Linked DNA regions of Homo sapiens. The protein of the gene in region 1 interacts with the protein of each later gene in a pairwise test. Each region holds a gene or a part of one and is shown on either strand. Other genes may lie near its edges.

Region 1 (3,923 bases):
AAACCCGTTAAGACCCTACCTGGGCTTTCTCATCCTCAAACCTGATTGAGTGATAAAAGCATTCATGCACATACAAACCATACCAGGACCCATGTAAAATTAAGAAACTTTCCAGCCCACAGACCACTAGTTAAAGATTAGATTTAGGCTAAGTAGAAATACTCCTGCATATAGGCATAGAGCTTGAAATTCATTTATATATACTAAAGGAAAAACTCATAACTTTTAGTTGGTCTGGTAAATTACTCCGACCTTCTCCCTGTGGCTGGTTACAAAAATAAACTCGCTTCTTTCCCAGTTCACCTGTATCTCATCATTGGACCACGAGAGCAAGCAGCTGGACCCTGTTCCTCCGGCAACGGCATCAATCTTACCACCAACCTTGGCTCTTTGAGGGGCTTGGTATATTAATATCACTGGCATCAGTGGGAATATGTGGGAGAAATGGAAGCAGTACTGGTAGAGAAAGAAGGAGAAGTGGCAGGATTGAGGTGCATGGCAGGCATTCATGGTGTCTTTCATGTAGTTTATAAAGTAGTTTATAAAGTAGCAGAAAGATAAAGAAATGACAGTTACAACATGGTAACATAAAAATTAGTAAAATGTGACATAAATTAGATATTAATTTTGGTTTGGCATAGCAGAATGCTCTGTCTGCATAATTTTATTAGATCTTCATTACAATACCACACCCTCAGATGAGGACAAATAAAGCCCCAACCTCTGGCCTTACATCTTAAGGTGTGTTTTCTCAAAATTTTCTGGGTTCCACTTTGGTGGTGGGAATGGCTGGAGCCAGCAGTACCACGTGGCCGGGGAGCCCTGAGCTGGTCCTGTGCCCATATGGACTCCGCTTTCTATTTCACCCCTTCATGGTTCTTTCTTACCCTCTTCCTTGCATGTCGGGCCCACTCGATGCCCCAAAGAACTCCAGGACTTCTGCTCACAAATGAAGTTGTCCTGAGGTCCTGTGGCTGAACCCTGGATCCAGAAAGACAGCCTTGGAAACAAATTACTACTCCTGTAGCCAGTACCTTACAATTACGTATTTTTGAATGATTTTATCGGATTTGATTGCCAAAGAATCTTGCAAAAACAATTTTTTCCCCAAGCTACACACCTTATGGTTGGTTGTGTTATTTATGTTCCCATTTTAGATGAGAGGACCAATATCCTAGATTAAAAATGTCAAATCCAAGATTACACAAACAGTGAAAATTGAATCCCAGGTTTTTCAAAAGACACTCTGATTTTAGATCTTAAGCCTATTATTCTATCCAAAGGCTCAGAGAAGACATGCTCTGAACATACTCAAAGTAACTGACACTGGAAAAGGTAACAGAGGTGTGAAAATCTTACCATAGTAGATGTGTGAGTGGGCTGGGGGCAGGTGAATTCCAGAGAAATGTGGCACTAAATGTCATGAAGCTGACTCTGTATTATACCAGAGTGGCCTCCAGATTGCTTTCACAACTGGGTAGTTCATCAGCTAATGTGATTCTCCAAACTTTAAATGATTAGAAAACTGGGGAAAAATGTAGAAAACCAGAGGAAAACACTCCTTCTAATCCAAATATAAATTCTTCACTTCTTTTCAATGTTCTTCCAGGAGAAGGATTCGTTGGGCTCTTTGCCTTCTGCTTTTATTTCTGTGCAAGGGTTTATGCAAGAGGTACTTGAGAATGCTGTACTGTAGAGCTTTGTTTCTCATGGGAACACACGGGGAAGTGGAAAACCCTCCAAATTGTTTGGTGAGAAAACATAACATTTATCCCTTTCTTTGGTGGGGTGAGTCAAGTGGTAGGGACTAGAATTCAGGTCCTCAATGGGCATATAAATATGTGTGTGCAAAAGCAGCCATCACACTTTGTATGGCAAGTGGAACCACTGGCTTGGTGGATTTTGCTAGATTTTTCTGATTTTTAAACTCCTGAAAAATATCCCAGATAACTGTCATGAAGCTGGTAACTATCTTCCTGCTGGTGACCATCAGCCTTTGTAGTTACTCTGGTAAGTAACTGGAATACATCTGGAATATGTGACATTTCTTTACTTTTCTGTTAATAAGAGCACAACTAGTAAGCCTTGCCTCACTGACAGTGGAATATGGTGGTAGGAATTGTATTTTTTTTTATTTTACTTTTAACTGACACATAATAATTGCACATATTTGCAGGGTTGGAAGAAGTTTTGGAATCACAGAAAATGGTGATGTTGGAAAGTATTTCAGATCCCCACCATCTAAGCTCTAGCCCAATATAAGTATTCTAATACATCCTACATAGGAAGTTAGCCAACTTCCACGGAGGGTCAACAAAGCACATTTCACTGCTGGATATTGGTCACCATTCGTTTTTCTTATTTTCCTCAATTTTGAGTTAAAATTTGACTTTATAATTTCTTTTGTGCTTTTGAACTATATGGAGTCATTCTTGCTATCATCTCCAGTTATCCAATTTGCTAGCTTGGTTCTCCTGAGATAGCTACATTCATCTGTTTATCCACTCAATGGATATTTATTGAATGGCTACAATTTGTTGGGCACTGGATAGGCATTGGAAGATTTAGACATGAAGCAGTCATAAATATTGTTCTTAAGGTGCTACTCTGGTAGGATAGATAGGGCTTCTGCCTAAGTTACTATAATTCTAGACTACTGTAAACGTACTGTGAGATATCCAGATAGAACTCTTTTAGTGTATTGGTGGGTGATTAGTTTAATTTTCAGGTAAGGGTATAGAAGCTGGCTTCTTGGAGGAGAATGGGAACTGATTTATTTTTTTGGAAGGAATCATTGTAACTATCAGGAAGACAGTGTGGGCACATGGGAAAAAGAGATTTCATGATAGCCACTGCTCATTGAGAGAACAGAAGGCTTTGAAGATCTTCTCCCAGGAAGCTGTAAACACATACAGAGAAGATATTTACCAAAATGTCTGAAATAAGAAGTATGGAGATTAATAATGAAAAATTGATTGCCGCCCACACCTACAATGGCAACTTTGGCTTTTGATGTTTATTGAATTTCTGAAGGAATTTGTAACTTCACCAGTTTTGGATATTTCACTGTTCTCTAATGTCCAGGGACAGGTATCTATGGGCAAAGTGGCAGCAGAAAGGAGGTGGGGAAAATAAATACCGCCCCCTCTGGGTGAGAATTTTGGAGGGACAATAGGTGATTGAAAATTTAAAAAAATATATACAGGCTCCATTTTAATAATTTGAATGGGGAAATAATAGGTTTCCAAAGGAAAATAAACTATGGCAGGTCTTAGCCAGTAGGAGGATGTGTGTTCTTACGTGTGTGCTCACATGCATGTGTGCATTTATATATCTGCACATGTTTTTGTAAAAAATACATCGTACATATTTTCCTCAATCTCTACTTTTTCCCACCATTCATCTTCTACGGGAAAGTTATCTTCCTAAAGCCAAAGATATAAAACGTAATTTTCCTATGTAAAAGCCTTGATAGCGCCCCACTGCCCTCAGGAAAAAAAAATCCAAACTCCTTTGTGTGACATCCAACACTTTAAAAAATCTGACCTCACTCAACTTTTGCAGCCTCACTCCCTTTATCTTCCATCCTTTGGTCATAGCCTATTGGAAATCTGCACTCCAGCCTTCTGGGCAGAAGGCTCACCATCCTGTGTATGCACTTTTATCCTAATGGTTCCGTGCCTTTATTGGTCATGTTTCTAAAATGCTTCTCCTCTTCTTTACCTTATGATCCTGACATTTGCCTCAAGACATAGCTCTAACAGCACTTCTGGAAAATTCCTGCAGCACTCTTTCATGTTAGAATTAGTCATCCCTTTCTTGTGTTTCCATGGAGCTTTGTCCATAATGTTAGCATAGCACATGCTACACTGTGGCATACACAGATCTTCTATCACCAACTGGACTGTGTGAAGTCTCTGAAT
Region 2 (3,923 bases), on another chromosome or scaffold:
AGTAAATCCTGGATAGGAATTAATGCTTGCACAAGCCATTACTCTGTGTGGAAGTTCAGAGAAGTAAGTCAACCAAGGTCACACAGAAAGTTAATGAAAGAGTTGAATTTGGGACCCAAGTCTCTCTGGTCTCTAGCCAGAGGTGAAGTGACTACACTTGACATCCACTAAGTGCTTCCTTTAAGAACAGGGATCCTCAATAATTAGCCCATGACATTTTCTAATAAGTCCCCTCCCCACACCCATGAGAATCAAAGATGAGCTGACCAGGCAGAGGCAGAGGGAGAGCAGGGAGCTCTGCCAGGCTAAGTGAGCGGGTTCCTTTGCCTAGGGGACTGCCCTCCAGTGGGCAAATCCCCTGTGTCCTCAATTATCTGGTCCTGTCTACCCCCCAGACTCTAGCTGGAGCCATCACTTCCTCATTTCCAATTTTCCTCTTTAAATTTTTCTGTCCTGGCTTCTGCTGCTTGTCCTCTGGCGGAACCAGTGACTTCCTGAATGTTGAAATTGTGGGCGCCACGGGGGACCTCTGCTTTTCAGGGCACTGCTAGGAGCTCACTTTCCTGAGTTTCATCCCCTTTCACTTTCTGACATACCACGGGCCAAAGAAAGTGACTTCGCCTGGCACAGCTTCACTTCCTGCCACCTGTCTTCCTCACCTCTTACATTTCAAATAGGCCAAAAGTCTACGGCTCCCCTGCTCCAGGCTGTCCCACCTCTGAGAGGCTGCACCTGCCCTCCTTCCTCCCTGGAGGGCCTTTGCCTCATCTTGATCTGGATCAATCCCCCATTATCCTTTTAAGCCCAGCTCTGGTATCTGATATCTCTTGATTCAGATGATAAAGCTATTTGTCATATTTCTGCCCTGTCTCCCCTGCCTCCCGGCACTTCTGTCTTTTCAGGGACATCAACCTTTGCCGCACTTCACAGCAATTTTCTGGAATGTAGTTGTAGCCGCAACCATCTTGCATGGTAGACTGTGAATATCTTTCATGAAAAAAGGCCATTTCTTCATCTCCTCGGTGCCCAGCAGGCTCACAATGTCTCTAATGATAATAACAACAACATGACCATAGTGTTTATTACCTAATACTTCCATCCTAGCCACCTTATATGATTTAATTCATTTAAGGCTCACGAAATTCATATCTTCCTTATTTATACAAACAGAAGAGTGAGATGCTCAAAGCTCAAGTGATTTGCCTACTGCCAGACAGCCCCTATGTGGAAGAGGTGGAATTTGAAGCCAGGCATTCTAGCTCTTAGTGTCTGTGTCTTAACCACCATGCTATACAGCATCCCTGGTAGAGATGCCTGACGGGAGGGAGAGAGGGGAGAAGCTACTTTCCTTAAGGAGCTCAGATCTCACTGGGGCCTGGACAAGGACACCTGTAACACATGTACACATGTGCACACATGTGTACACACACAGAGAGAGAACATGGGAAAACTACAAGAAGAAATACTAAGTGCTAAAATGTGTGGTTCAGAGCAAGGCTTCTCAAACTGTAATGTGTATATAAATCACCTGGGGATCTAGTTAAACTGTAGATTTGGATTTGATCTGATGGGGTGGGACCAGAGACTCATTGTTAGAACAAGTGAACTTGCATTTCTAACAAGTTCTCAGGTGATACTAATACTGCTGGTCCATGGACCACACTTTGAGCAGCAAGGATGAACTCTAAAGGTTGAGGCAGGTCAGAGAAGGGAGATTTCACTGTGGGCTGGAGAGGTCCTGGGACAGAGAGCTGAGTCTGGGCCCATGGCAGGGCTTGGTTGGCCCTCTCTGGAGCCATCCAGCTTTTGGGTCTCAGGGACCTGGGAGTGACGGGTGCATTCAGAGGCCCGTAACTTGTGTCCCAAAGCCTCCTCGATCCCCCTTAACAAGCAGCAGCACTGTGTGGGAGATCCACATGTGAATAGCCCGTGTTTGAGAAATGTCCAATCCTGATCATGTCAGGAAACATCCTGCAAATTCTGAAATCAGAGCCAAAGGGAAGTGCTGCGAGGTTTACAACCAGCTGCAGTGGTTCGATGGGAAGGATCTTTCTCCAAGTGGTTCCTCTTGAGGGGAGCATTTCTGCTGGCTCCAGGACTTTGGCCATCTATAAAGCTTGGCAATGAGAAATAAGAAAATTCTCAAGGAGGACGAGCTCTTGAGTGAGACCCAACAAGCTGCTTTTCACCAAATTGCAATGGAGCCTTTCGAAATCAATGGTAAAGTACGATTCCCCAATAATGGAAATGACCAGAAATGTAGTCTTTCTGCTAGCGAGATACGAAAATAGACAAGTCAATAGAAAGTCTAGGTTTGGCTTATTGCTGCATTTTGCACGTAATCATCACTAATACTGTCTGGAGTGCTTCAATTTGGAATTTCTGGAATGCTAATAATAGATGCTGTATTTTTAGCATATAGTCAGGTTTTTCTTAGCTTCACTATTGTTTTAATCATATTTAAATATTTTCCCTTGAAAAAATGCCAATGCTTATTAAATGTCCCCTTTTTTTAATGAATGTCTTATTCTGACACACAGGTTGGGTGATACAATGAAAACGCAAAACAGGGGCACTGAAAGGGGACCACAAAACTGAAGCCAAGCATGACAGTTTTCAAAACACAGCTTCTTTAAAATTCTTTAAGGGGATTTCTGTTATAACTGATGTGCTGGTCAGGAAACATATTCTGTATTTCATGTTGACTGAAATATGTTCATAGCTTCATAATTAGTTTGTCTTAGGTTAAACTCAGGTCTGTAATATTCAGTCAACTCTGTTGTCTTTATTTTCTCACTCAGCATTCAACAGGTGATGCATTTTTAAAATCTTCTAGAATTTGTAGCATTTGAAGTCATGGGTGGGCTTGCATTCCACAAATGAGCTCTGATTTCCTAGTCTAGAACGTTCTCTTGGGATCATCTTCCAAGTTGATCAGTCATTTCCACTCCCAGGCTTTGCTGGAAGTTGTCTATGCAGGAAAATTGGTGGCTTTATCTCCTGGCCAGAGTGTCCTTCTCATCCCACACCTGTCTGCCCAGGTCCCTGCCTGGAATTTTCAGCGCACAAAGATGAAGCGTCTGGGGCTCTGCCTCTAGGAATTTACAGTGTAATAACAGAGAAAGGTGTGAGTGCTAATGGCTATAATAATCATTGGCTATTTAGAACTTCTCAGAATGCAACATTCTGGATACATGACTGTTTAAGAGACTGAAGATGTTCAAGCAAAGTCAGCTGATCAAGCATACTCAGCACCTATTTCCAGCAGGGCACTGCACTCAGCACTGAGGAAACAGGCTTGAATAAACATAGCCTCTGGCCTCTGGCTTCTGGCACGAGGGGACAGGGGACAGGGTAAGCTGCCCATGAACTGACAATTTCCATGTTGTGACTGAGACTTCCACAGGACATGATGGACAGATCTAACCAGGTGTAGAGCCCTGGAGGGCAGAGCTGACACCTCTTCCAAAGTTTAAAGGATAAAGGGAGTCCGTTAGAGAAAGAAGTTAGTGCCTGGGGCGGGGTGGGCGCCACATGTTTGTATTGTATTCACAAGAAATATTCAGAGAAATATAAATACTTCCATACTGTTTGGCCAAAATTGGGACGGAAAGACCAGTGGGGACTGAGGCTGGAACCAAAAAATTTGACTTCATCCTGAGGTCAGTGGGGAAGCAGGAAGGGGCCGATGTGGGGCTGAAAGGCACTAATGTGCATGTGAGGTTGCTCTTTGTCCTACATAGGGATGGCTGGAGAGAGAAGCTGAGGACAGAGAGGAACTTGGCAGCAAGAGATGATGAGGGGCAGTGGATGGAAGGCAGGAAAATAAAGGAATGCTCTGGAGAAACACCGGAAATCAGATCAATTGGACTGCAATGGCAGGACAGGGCTGGGGAGGAAGACGCAGGAGTTAATAGTGAACC

Evidence for each region.
Region 2: the proteins of SCGB3A2 (region 1) and MARCO come close enough for resonance energy transfer, tested with the Homo sapiens proteins (one study listed by BioGRID).

What each region holds. Positions count from the first base shown.
Region 1 is NC_000005.10:147,876,849-147,880,771, forward strand, and holds the start of SCGB3A2 (secretoglobin family 3A member 2 precursor), read left to right. Parts: upstream 1-1,862; 5' UTR 1,863-1,955; coding exon 1,956-2,010; intron 2,011-3,923.
Region 2 is NC_000002.12:118,940,178-118,944,100, forward strand, and holds the start of MARCO (macrophage receptor MARCO), read left to right. Parts: upstream 1-2,016; 5' UTR 2,017-2,123; coding exon 2,124-2,220; intron 2,221-3,923. UniProt on the Homo sapiens protein: Pattern recognition receptor (PRR) which binds Gram-positive and Gram-negative bacteria. Also plays a role in binding of unopsonized particles by alveolar macrophages. Binds to the secretoglobin SCGB3A2.